Linked DNA regions of Homo sapiens. The protein of the gene in region 2 purifies or fractionates together with the protein of the main gene of each other region. This does not show direct contact. Each region holds a gene or a part of one and is shown on either strand. Other genes may lie near its edges.

Region 1 (3,651 bases), on a different chromosome or scaffold from region 2:
ATGGGATTGTAGAAAATGAAGAAATAAAATGGACATAAAGTATTAGAAAAAAAAGGATAGAACTGAGTAATCATTCTAAATTTATAATTGATGTGTTAAAGAAGGAAACTGAATAATGGGTTAGAAAAAATTGTTGACTGACTGTGATCTCCATAGGGATCAGGGCACAGCTTGTTCTTCAGTGTGAAAAGCCGAATGCTCACCTTTCACTCTGCTTTGAGAAATCTTGTTAGAATAGAGGACTCATCAGCACGGTTACAAGGCAAAGGGAAGGAGGGAGAGAGACAGAGACTCATGGTCCAGAAGAGAGGGGGTTAATTCCTAGGGCAAGCTCATGGGAAGAAGGGAAAGGATGGAGTAACAGGGAAGGAAAGGAGTCTGGATGGTGATGTAGAACTGCTAGATAAGGATCTTTTAGAAACAGTGTTTGGCGTGGAGGAGAAGATATAAACAGAGAGGTTAGGCAAAGGGGGTTTTCGTTGTGCTCATTAACAAGGACACAGAAGCTTAGGGAGTTCTGGGTTTGGGTTTGTACTACAAATTTCAAATACATTGGTGAGTTTTCCTTTGAAAAGAGTCCGTTGAAAATCTTGAGTTTTCATAGTTGCTGTGTTCCTTGTCTGAAGTAACGTTTGAAGATAAGAAGCGGGAGAACTTTGAACGTGGCAACCTGGAACTGGAGAAACGAAGGCAAGCTCTCCTGGAACAGCAGCGCAAGGAGCAGGAGCGCCTGGCCCAGCTGGAGCGGGCGGAGCAGGAGAGGAAGGAGCGTGAGCGCCAGGAGCAAGAGCGCAAAAGACAACTGGAACTGGAGAAGCAACTGGAAAAGCAGCGGGAGCTAGAACGGCAGAGAGAGGAGGAGAGGAGGAAAGAAATTGAGAGGCGAGAGGTAAGCAGGCGAGAGTGGAGCCACCCGGAGTTAGTGTGCGATCACCCCTTTTCAGAATTATCCAAGTGATCTATTCACGCCATCTTTGTCTTTTTACAATTCAGTAGTTTTAGTATATTCCCAAAGTTGTGCAACCATCGTCCCTAATTCCAGAACATTTTCATCACTCCAGCTCTTTACCCATTAAGCAGCTACTCCCCATTTCTTTCTCCCTCCAGCTCCTATCATTAATTTTACTTTCTATCTTTCTAGATTTACTTATTCAGGACATTTTTTATAAATGGAATCATCAATATATGGACTTTTGTTTCTGGCTTTCATTTAGCATAATGTTTTCAAGGTTCATCCACATTGTAAAATGAATCAGTCCTTTATTCCTGTTTATGGCTGAGTAATATTTCGTTATATGGGTATACCACATTTTTTAATTCATTCAGCAGTTGATGGTCATTGTGGCTATTATAAACAATGATGTTATGAACATTAATGTACAAGTTTTTGATGATACAATTTTGTAACAAACCACTGATACCAGTAAAGTGTTTTTCCAGACTGTTTTCTCTGTATACACCTATATAAAAATATAAAGGTTTATATGGCGGAGAGTGTAAGGGCTGTATAATTTTTTAAAAACCACTGTAATAGTATCATACCAATTACATTGTTCTGCAATCTTCTTTTTTTTTTTTTTTTTTGTTTGAGACAGAGTCTCGCTCTGTCACTTCCAGGCTGGAATGCAGTGGCATGATCTCAGCTCACTGCAACCTCTGCCTCCTGGGTTCAAGCGATTCTCCTGCCTCAGTCTCCTGAGTAGCTGGGATTACAGGTGCCCGCCACCACGCCCAGCTAATATTTTGTATTTTTAGTAGAGATGAGGTTTCACCATGTTGGTCAGGCTGATCTCGAGCTCCTGACCTCGGGTGATCCACCCGCCTCAGCCTCCCAAAGTGCTGGGATTACAGGCATGAGCCACCGCGCCTGGCCCATGCAACCTTCTTTTTAAACTCTTTTAAAAATATGTCTGGGACATCCTCCCTATATTCTATGGAAGGCTTCGTAAATTTAGCGCCATACCTGGAAAGGGGCTAAGCAAATCTTGTCTCTCTTTCCAATTTTAGTACATTACTGCAGAAGCAACACATGGTTCTTTCATGTGAATGAAAGATAAAAATGAGGAATTTTTCGATGTAAAAAAATAGCCTGAGTGCTGTGCCTCAAGCCTGTAATCCCAGCACTTTGGGAGGCTAAGGAGGGATGATCACTTGAGGCCAGTAGTTGGAGGCCACTGCATTCCAGCCTAGGTGACAGAGCAAGAACCTGTCTCAAAAAAAGAAAGAAACAAAACTTATAGCCATAACTCCTTTTTTTTTTTTTGAGACAGACTCTCGCTCTGTTGCCCAGGCTGGAGTGCAGTGGCACGATCTCAGTTCACTGCAGCCTTCACCTCCTGGGTTCAAGTGATTCACCTGCCTCAGCCTCCGGAGTAGCTGGGATTACAGGCGTGAGCCACCATGCCTGGCTGATTTTTGTATTTTTAGTAGAGACAGGGTTTCGCCATGTTGCCCAGGCTGGTCTCGAACTCCTGACCTCAGGTGATCCGCCTGCCTCGGCCTACCAAAGTGCTAGGATTACAAGCGTGAGCCACTGCGCCCGGCCCCGTAACTCCTTTTTGTTCAGACAGACACTAACAAAATTTTAATTTTCAGAATGAACAAAGATAGGCAAACTTTTCTTCAACGTACCAAAAAAATGATATTCTAGAGTATTTATTCAGAATTATTTAATAGACATTTACCATGTATCAGGTGTAGTTGGATGACCCATGAGTCAGAGGCAATTCCCATAGACTGTCAGATGCTCTGATATGTACTCTATCTAGCAGTCGTCAGAGCCAGTCGTTGGAGGGAGCAAAAGCTTTTGTGGTAAAAAGGAAATGAATGATTAGGAAGTGGGGAGTCGCAGACTTTTAAAACGAGTTAAGTAATAATTTCTCTTTTGGTGGAGTAAAATCAACTCTTGTTTGTTTTTGTTCAGGGGTGTTTTAGTTTGATTTTACTACATAAATTTTCCTTCTTGGCGTGTCAGTAAATAAGAAGGAGCATTTTTAGTTAGCACATCAAGCATTCTTGAAGGCATAAAGAATGGAATTCTAATGGGGAAATAATCCTGTCATCTTACGTAAATATAGTATTATGTAAATATAATACCCAGTTCTGTGTATTCCCTTTATTCCCATAGAAGGAATACTGTATTTTTATGTAATTTTTTGTTTTCTAATGTGATTTCTTGTAATGTTTAATATTTCATCCCTAAAAGGAAAGACTTCCTAGATGCCATTTTTGTGAAAAGACATTGTGTAGTGTAAGAACTGAAAAATTAGTAATTTGTCTCTGTAAATGTCACAGGCTGCAAAACGGGAACTTGAAAGGCAACGACAACTTGAGTGGGAACGGAATCGAAGGCAAGAACTACTAAATCAAAGAAACAAAGAACAAGAGGACATAGTTGTACTGAAAGCAAAGAAAAAGACTTTGGAATTTGAATTAGAAGCTCTAGTGAGTGAAGTTTGGTTATACTTTGAAAATATACTAAGATGGAACCATTAAAAACAGTAATAATTTTTATTATCTTTCATTTGTTCAAGAATGATAAAAAGCATCAACTAGAAGGGAAACTTCAAGATATCAGATGTCGATTGACCACCCAAAGGCAAGAAATTGAGAGCACAAACAAATCTAGAGAGTTGAGAATTGCCGAAATCA
Region 2 (3,651 bases):
TCATTGTTCCCCTGGAGGTCCTGGGCTGAGACCACGGAGCAGTAATACACACCACTGTCCCCCCACGCCGTCTGGTCAAAGGTCAGGTCAGCATCTGAGTCGGGATGAAAAGGCGTGAGGGCACCTTGGAGGCTGGGGCACCTAACCCCTGGAGGGCCAAAGACCCCTTCCCAGCACACCCAGGAGGGGGCAAGCAGTGGGCTGGGCAGGCTGCAGATGATCAAATGCATATGCAAAGATTCCTACCAAGGGCACACGGCCTTTTACACCCCGTTCTAAACACCTGGACTACTGCAAGAAGTCTGTGAGGCAGGACCATTATCACTTCTGTTTTGTGGATGACATTTCGGGTCTGGAAAAGCTGCACAGCTCTTCAGTATAGAGCAGTAATGGTGCCCTCGGAGCCTGAGGTTGTTTTTTTTTTTCTTTCTTTAGAGACAGGGTCTCACTCTGTGGCCCTGGCTGGAGTGCAGTGGTGTAATTATAGCCCACTGCAACTTCAACCTCCTGGACTCAAGCAATCCTCCCACCTGAGTAGTTAGGACTACAGGCACTCCACCATGCCCAGCTTTTTTTTTTTTTTGTTTGAATCGGAGTTTCACTCTTGTTGCCCAGGCTGGCATGCAATGGTGCGAACTAATCTCGGCTCACTACAATCTTCGCCTCCCAGATTCAAGCAATTCTCCTGCCTCAGCCTCCCATGTAGCTGGGATTATAGGCACCTGCCACCACACCTGGCTAATTTTTGCATTTTTAGTAGAGATGGAGTTTCGCCATGTTGACCAAGTTGGTTTTGAACTCCAGACCTCAGGTGATCCACCCCCACCTCAGCCTCCCAAAGTGCTGGGATTACAGGCGTGAACCACCACACCCAGCAGTCTGTGCTTCTCAACTTACAGCCATCTCTGAACCACCTCTCAGAGCCAAAGTCAGAACTCCCCTGATGTGAACTGCCACCCACAGGGCCTAGTGTAGACCCCAGGGATGGGTGTGGAGATAAACAGGCCAGATTCTAGGTACCAGGAGATGCCCAGGCACCCATAAGGAGTGGGTGTGTCTATGTGGGAGAGAGAGACTTACCCTCCCAGTGCCTTGGTTCCTCCCCCTCCCCTTCCATCCCCACATTCCAGGTCAGGCCCAGGGCTTGGGGACGCTCTTGTCTGAAGCAGCTGCAGGCAAGGAGCCTGTTAACTCTACCATCCATCAAAGTGTTTTGGCACATCCTGTTTCCTCTCTGCTTCTCAGGCACTAATTAAATACCTTCAGCCTTTCACCAGGGTGGGACCAGGGCACCTACCAGGCAACTCTGCCTTAAGCCACTGGGGACAGAAGTAGGCTACATTGGGCATCTCGGGCAGGAAATGCCCTCAGCTTCCCGGCCTCTTTCCTCCTAGCCTGACCTGCCTGCCACCTTCCCAAGGACGCGCTGCCCTCCTGCATGACAGCTCTGTGACGGCAGCAACCACGCGTGCTGCAGTCCACAGCACCTGGCACCCCCAGGAATGAAAGAACCCTTGCTTTCTTCATAAGGAAGGCCTCATGTCTACAGAAAAATCCTCCTTGCAACAGTGTCTGGCTACAGCATTCCAGACGCCTTCCCTAAGGTCCCATAGTCCCATGGTCCCCAAGGCCCTTGGCACGACGTGGTCTCTAGCTACCGTGCCAGCCTCACCCCTGCCATCGCCTTGGTTCTAGATTTGCACTGTCCCCCTGTGGGCTGGGCTTCTCCCACGGCTCCCCCACCCAACTGCTGAAGTCTTATCTCCCAGCTTAGGGGCCGACCATCCTTTGCCTGGTGAAAATGTGGGCTCCGTGAGGCAGAGCCCTGTCTGTCTCAGCCACTGCTGGGTCCCCAGTGCCTGACACAATACCTGGCAAGGAGCAGAAATGAACACCCTCTTGGCCGGACATGGTGGCTCACACCTGTAATCCTAACACTTTGGGAGGCTGAGGCAGGTGGATCACTTGAGGTCAGGAGTTCCAGACCAGCCCGGCCAACATGGTAAAACCCCATCTCTACCAAAAATGTAAAAAATTAGCTAGGCATGGTGGCACGCACCTGTAGTCCCAGCTACCCTGGAGGCTGAGGCAGGAGAATTGCTTGAACTCAGGAGGCAGAGATTGCAGTGAGCTGAGATTGCACCACTGCACTCTAGCCTGGGCAGTAGAGTGAGACTCCATCTCAAAAAAAAAAGAAAAAAAAGGAAACGAACCCCCTCTCCTCATGCTAAAGTCCCTTAGCTTTTGTCATCTGTCTCATCATTCTGGGCACATGGCTGGATTCAAAGACACATTTCTTTCTTTCTTTCATTCATTCATTCATTCATTCATTCATTCATCCTTCAACAATAATTACTGAGTACCACCTATGTTCTAGGCAGTATTTGAGACACCTGGGATACCACAGCAACAGTTCTCAAACTGCAGCCTCTAGACCCTGGGGTTCCCCAAGACGTTTTCAGGAGATCCTGAGGTCAAAGTTATTTTCCCAACAATACTAACTGTGGAGTTTTCCAGAGGCTACGTGACATACAATAGATATCACAACAGACTGAAGCAGCTCTGAGAAGCCAGGCTCTTCTATCCAGCCAGGCTTCGGAGACTTGCAAAAAAATAAAACCATGCCACCTTCTCATTCACAATGTTTTGTCTGATTTCAGAAAATGATTATTTTTTTCATAAAAGGTATTTTATTTATGTTAATCTATAATGACTTTATTGTCATTTAAACTATTTTGTAAACTTTTCTCATTCTGCTGCCTATGAAAACAAACTCTTTGAGCTCTTAATTTTTTTTTTTTTTTTGAGATGGAGTCTCGCTCTGTTGCCCAGGCTGGAGTGCAGTGGCACGATCTTGGCTCACTGCAGCCTCTGCCTCCTGGGTTCAAGCGATTCTCCTGCCTCAGCCTCTTGAGTAGCTGGGATTATAGGCGCCTGCCAACATAACTGGCTAATTTTTGTATTTTTAGTAGAGACAGGTTTTTCACTGTGTTGGCCAGGCAGGTCTGGAACTCCTGACCTCAAGTGATCTGCCCGCCTGGGCCTCCCAAAGTGCTGGGATTCCAGGCATGAGCCACCTCGCTAGGCCTGAGCTCTTAATTAACCTCAAAATCAAGAATATAAAAGAGGCCTAAGCCCGGAACCTTTGAGTTATAAATCCTTGCCCTTGCCCTTCTAGAGTTCAGATTCTAACTAGGAAAGAAAGACAAATATAAAATGTTAACTATGTCACATATCAGACAAAGATAAGCTGTATGGAGAAAACGAATCAGGGACAGCAGAGAGTGCCAGGCGTGGAGTGGGGGCTGTGCCATTTTAAACAAGGAGGCCAGGGAAGGCTTCCGGATATGGTGACCTTCAGAGCAGATGTGAAGGGGTTGAGGACACGACTTACCCTAATGATCAGGCATCTAAGCCACTGTTTTTTTGTTGTTGGTGTTGTTTTTTAATTTTGAGATGGGATCTTGCTTTGTTGTCCAGGTTGATCTTGAACTCCAGGGCTCAAGTGATCCACCTGCCTCAGCCTCCCAAAGTGCTGGGATTACAGGCATGAGCCACCGCCCCTAGCCCCCACCGTTTATTGAGCTCTTACTATGTGCTGGGCCCCTCTACACACATTCTTTCATTGAATCCTCATAGAATTCCAAACTA
Region 3 (3,651 bases), on a different chromosome or scaffold from region 2:
GGTGAAACCCCGTCTCTACTAAAAATGCAAAAAATTAGCCAGGTGTGGTGGCACACGCCTGTAGTCCCAGCTACTCGGGAGGCTGAGGCAGGAGAATAGCTTAAACCCGGGAGGCTGAGGCAGGAGAATAGCTTGAACCCAGGAGGCAGAGGTTGCAGTGAGCTGAGATTGCGCCACTGCACTCCAGCCTGGGCAACAGAGCGAGACTCCGTCTCAAAAAAAAAAAAAAAAGTAGCAGGGCAATAGCTACTTTATACCACCCTTATCTATTTGCAGGATAACCTAGTAATCTGCCTTTTGCGCTTGAAAGAATATTTTATAATGCATACATGACTGCACTGTGTAAATAAAATCGAGTCTGTTAACTTTTCACTTTTAATACCTCTCAAACTTCTATTCTTCTCATTATCCCTTCTACGGGTACAGTCTCACTCTCTAATCCGTTTTCCACATTTCTAAAAGTTAATCACGTCACTTCTTGCTTAAAATTCTTCAATGGCTGTTCATTGCAGTAGGATAAATCCCCCAATGCTTTAAGATGAATCTAAATTTCTCATCTTCTGGCACTTTCTGACCTAAAATTGGTCATTTTTATCCAGGTGCACATGACAATCACCCATAGAGTGTGTTTTTAAAATATACATATCTGGCTCTATCCCAGAAACTAGTTCAGCAAGTTTGGGGAAAGGGATACACATTTATACTTTGACAATCACCAGAGGTAATGCAGATGCCTACTAGAAGCGCCTCATCTCTTACCAATACCCTCTCCACCATCACAAGATATCCTTCAGAACTTCTCAAGATTCTGTGCTGCATGTATTCTTCCACCTTGTACCTATACTAATACTGTTTTCTCTGGCAGGAATGTATCCTCCTCTTCTTTGCTTAACCACTTCTCACTTGTCTAAACTCGCAAAGCTTTCCCCAACAAAATCTTTATGAACCCCCTCCAAACTGTCCTAACTGAAAATTCTGCGCTTCCTTTAGCACAGCCCTTTAACACAGTGTTACACTACTACACTGTAGGCTGCTTGAAGGAAAGACTGAGGTCTCTTGTCTCTGTAGCTCTTATATTATGTAATACAGCACTCTTGCACATAGTTGGTACTCGTCAAATAATTGGTAAATGAATGTCCTTAACACTACGTAATAAAAATAATTTTAGCTTTTGGTGAGGGTACTTAAAAAAAAAGTTTTACTCTATAGAACCACCATTTTAAAAACAGGCTCTACAAAAAATAAATTAGCTGGCTGGGCGTGGTGGCTCACGCCTGTAATCCCTGCACTTTGGGAGGCCGAGGCAGATGGGTCACTTGAGGTCAGGAGTTCGAAACCAGCCTGGCCAACATGATGAAACCCCATCTCTACTAAAAATACAAAAAATTAGCTGAGTGTGGTGGCACGTGACTGTAATCCCAGCTACTCAGGAGGCTGAGGCAGGAGAATTGCTTGAACCCAGGAGACGGAGGTTGCAGTAAGCCAAGATCGCACCACTGCACTCCAGCCTGGGCAACAAGAGCAAAACTCCATCTCCAAAAAAAAAAAAATTAGCTAAAGTTATCTTTTTATACTAGTTAAAACGTACAATTGTTTGGATTAGGACTCTCTGCTTCTAAAAAGGAAATCTCAATTGTCCTCAGATGAGGCAAGGCCATGTATTTATATTAGATATAATGTCAGTGAAACTTGGATCTGCACAAGGAGGTTGATTATGAAGGTTATGAAAGTATTAGACTCACTGGAGATTCCTGGTGTATGGGCTCAGACTCTAGGTTGCTCTGGCCTTCAACATGTTCATTAAGGTTGGCTGTTTCACTGCTGCTGGTGCTGAGGCTGCAATAATCTGTAGCTCCGTTTACAAGAATGCTGTGTGGGCTACTGCACCAATTTAACTGACTATTATGATTTTCCAAATCTTTCATTTCCATCAGTTTCATTTGCATCTGCCAACACAAAGAAGAAATATAGAACAGAATTTATTACTAGAAAGACATGTAACATAAAAACGCCCTCCTCCACTTCCTGACGGGCTAGGTGTGGTAGCTCATGCCTATAATCTCAACACTTTGGGAAACTGAGGCAGGAGGACTGCTTCAGCCCAGGAGTTCAAGACCAGCCTGAGCAACACGGTGAAACCTCATTTCTACAAGAAATATAAAAATTAGCTGGGCATGATGGAGTGCACCTGTAGTCCCAGCTACTCAGAAGGCTGAGATGGGAGGATCACTTGAGCCCAGAGGTCAAGGCTGCAGTGAGCCATGATCACACCACTGCACTCGAGTGACAGAATGAGACCCTGTCTCAAAAAAATAAATAAAATAAAAATGGCTATACCTGTAGACTTGGTCTAGGATACATTTGCTTCCTTTAAGAAGAATCCTCTGGGAATGCTACGTGACTTAGAGAAAAGATTCAGTAATTTCTGACAATAAGTATTTCTCTCTTGAAATTTTAGTATACATGGATTTTTTTTTTAAAGAGATTCAAAAAAAGAAAATACTTTAAAGAATACCCATTCATCTGGTAGCATTCTCACTACAACAACTCTTTCAGGTTACCTGTTTATTGAGTACCTACACTGGGACAAGAACTGTGCTAAATGATACGGATTTTTAAAAATGTGTAAGTTCCCAGACCAAAACCATGACTCTGCTAGGGGAGACAGACATATAAGCAAATATGCAGGGAAAAATCTTATTATTGCTGTAACATAAATACAAAGTCCAACAAAAGCAGGATGCAGAAAATACCATAAAGAAATAAGAATTTAAGGTATATCTTGCATGACGAATGAGTAGGTAGGTACTCAGCTGCCAGATAACAGGGGGTAAGGAAGCGCAAAAGTGAAGGACTTCATTATATGTAATAACTGAGCACACTGGACTGGGTTTTAGAAGAACTGGATTTTAGATGTAGCTCTTTTCAAGGATATGTAACCTTGAGAAAGTTACTTGAACTTCCTTGGCTTTAGTTTGTTCAAATTCATAATGAAAGAAATCAACTCCATGATCTCTGTGTTTCTATCCTTTTTTTTTTAGTTTTTATTTTTTGAGACAGATTCTCACTCTGTTGCCCAGGGTGGAGTGCAGTGGTGTGATCTGAGCTCACTGCAACCTCTGCCTCCCAGGCTCAAGTGATTCTCGTGCCTCAGCCTCCCAAGTAGCTGGAATTACAGGCAGGTACCACCATGCCCAGTTAATTTTTGTACCTTTTAGTAGAAACAGAGTTTGGCCATGTTGGCAGGGCTGGTCTCGAACTCCCGGCCTCAAGTGATCCATTGCCTCAGCCTCCCAAAGTGCTGGGATTACAGGCATGGGCCACCACCATGCCGAGCCCTAACTATCTTATCATTCATTAAAACATTAGTCTTCATGTAGGGAAACCTGGAAATAAAGCAAAGGATCTATACATAAGACCAACTATAACACTGCAAATTTATCTACAGAAGGAACAATTTCCTTAAGAAAAAAGTTTCCAAATTAGCAAATGTGAATTCAAAATTAGAATCACAAAACAGAAGAAACTAGGTTATTGTTTATAAAACAGGCAACACTTATGGAGCATTTATGTACCAAGCACCATGCTAAAATGTCTTACAGGTTTTGCCTCATTAATCCTCACAGTGGCCCTAAGGGGTAGGGTATTTAT

The links.
Region 1: the proteins of LSR (region 2) and ITSN1 purify together in Homo sapiens (affinity purification with mass spectrometry; 2 studies listed by BioGRID and IntAct, with this or other methods). This does not show direct contact.
Region 3: the proteins of LSR (region 2) and EPS15 purify together in Homo sapiens (affinity purification with mass spectrometry; 2 studies listed by BioGRID and IntAct, with this or other methods). This does not show direct contact.

What each region holds. Positions count from the first base shown.
Region 1 is NC_000021.9:33,771,435-33,775,085, forward strand, and holds part of ITSN1 (intersectin-1), read left to right. Parts: intron 1-626; coding exon 627-889; intron 890-3,294; coding exon 3,295-3,444; intron 3,445-3,533; coding exon 3,534-3,651. UniProt on the Homo sapiens protein: Adapter protein that provides a link between the endocytic membrane traffic and the actin assembly machinery. Acts as a guanine nucleotide exchange factor (GEF) for CDC42, and thereby stimulates actin nucleation mediated by WASL and the ARP2/3 complex.
Region 2 is NC_000019.10:35,255,388-35,259,038, reverse strand, and holds part of LSR (lipolysis-stimulated lipoprotein receptor isoform 2 precursor), read right to left. Parts: intron 95-3,651; coding exon 1-94. UniProt on the Homo sapiens protein: Probable role in the clearance of triglyceride-rich lipoprotein from blood. Binds chylomicrons, LDL and VLDL in presence of free fatty acids and allows their subsequent uptake in the cells.
Region 3 is NC_000001.11:51,404,163-51,407,813, forward strand, and holds part of EPS15 (epidermal growth factor receptor substrate 15), read right to left. Parts: intron 1,947-3,651; coding exon 1,743-1,946; intron 1-1,742. UniProt on the Homo sapiens protein: Involved in cell growth regulation. May be involved in the regulation of mitogenic signals and control of cell proliferation. Involved in the internalization of ligand-inducible receptors of the receptor tyrosine kinase (RTK) type, in particular EGFR.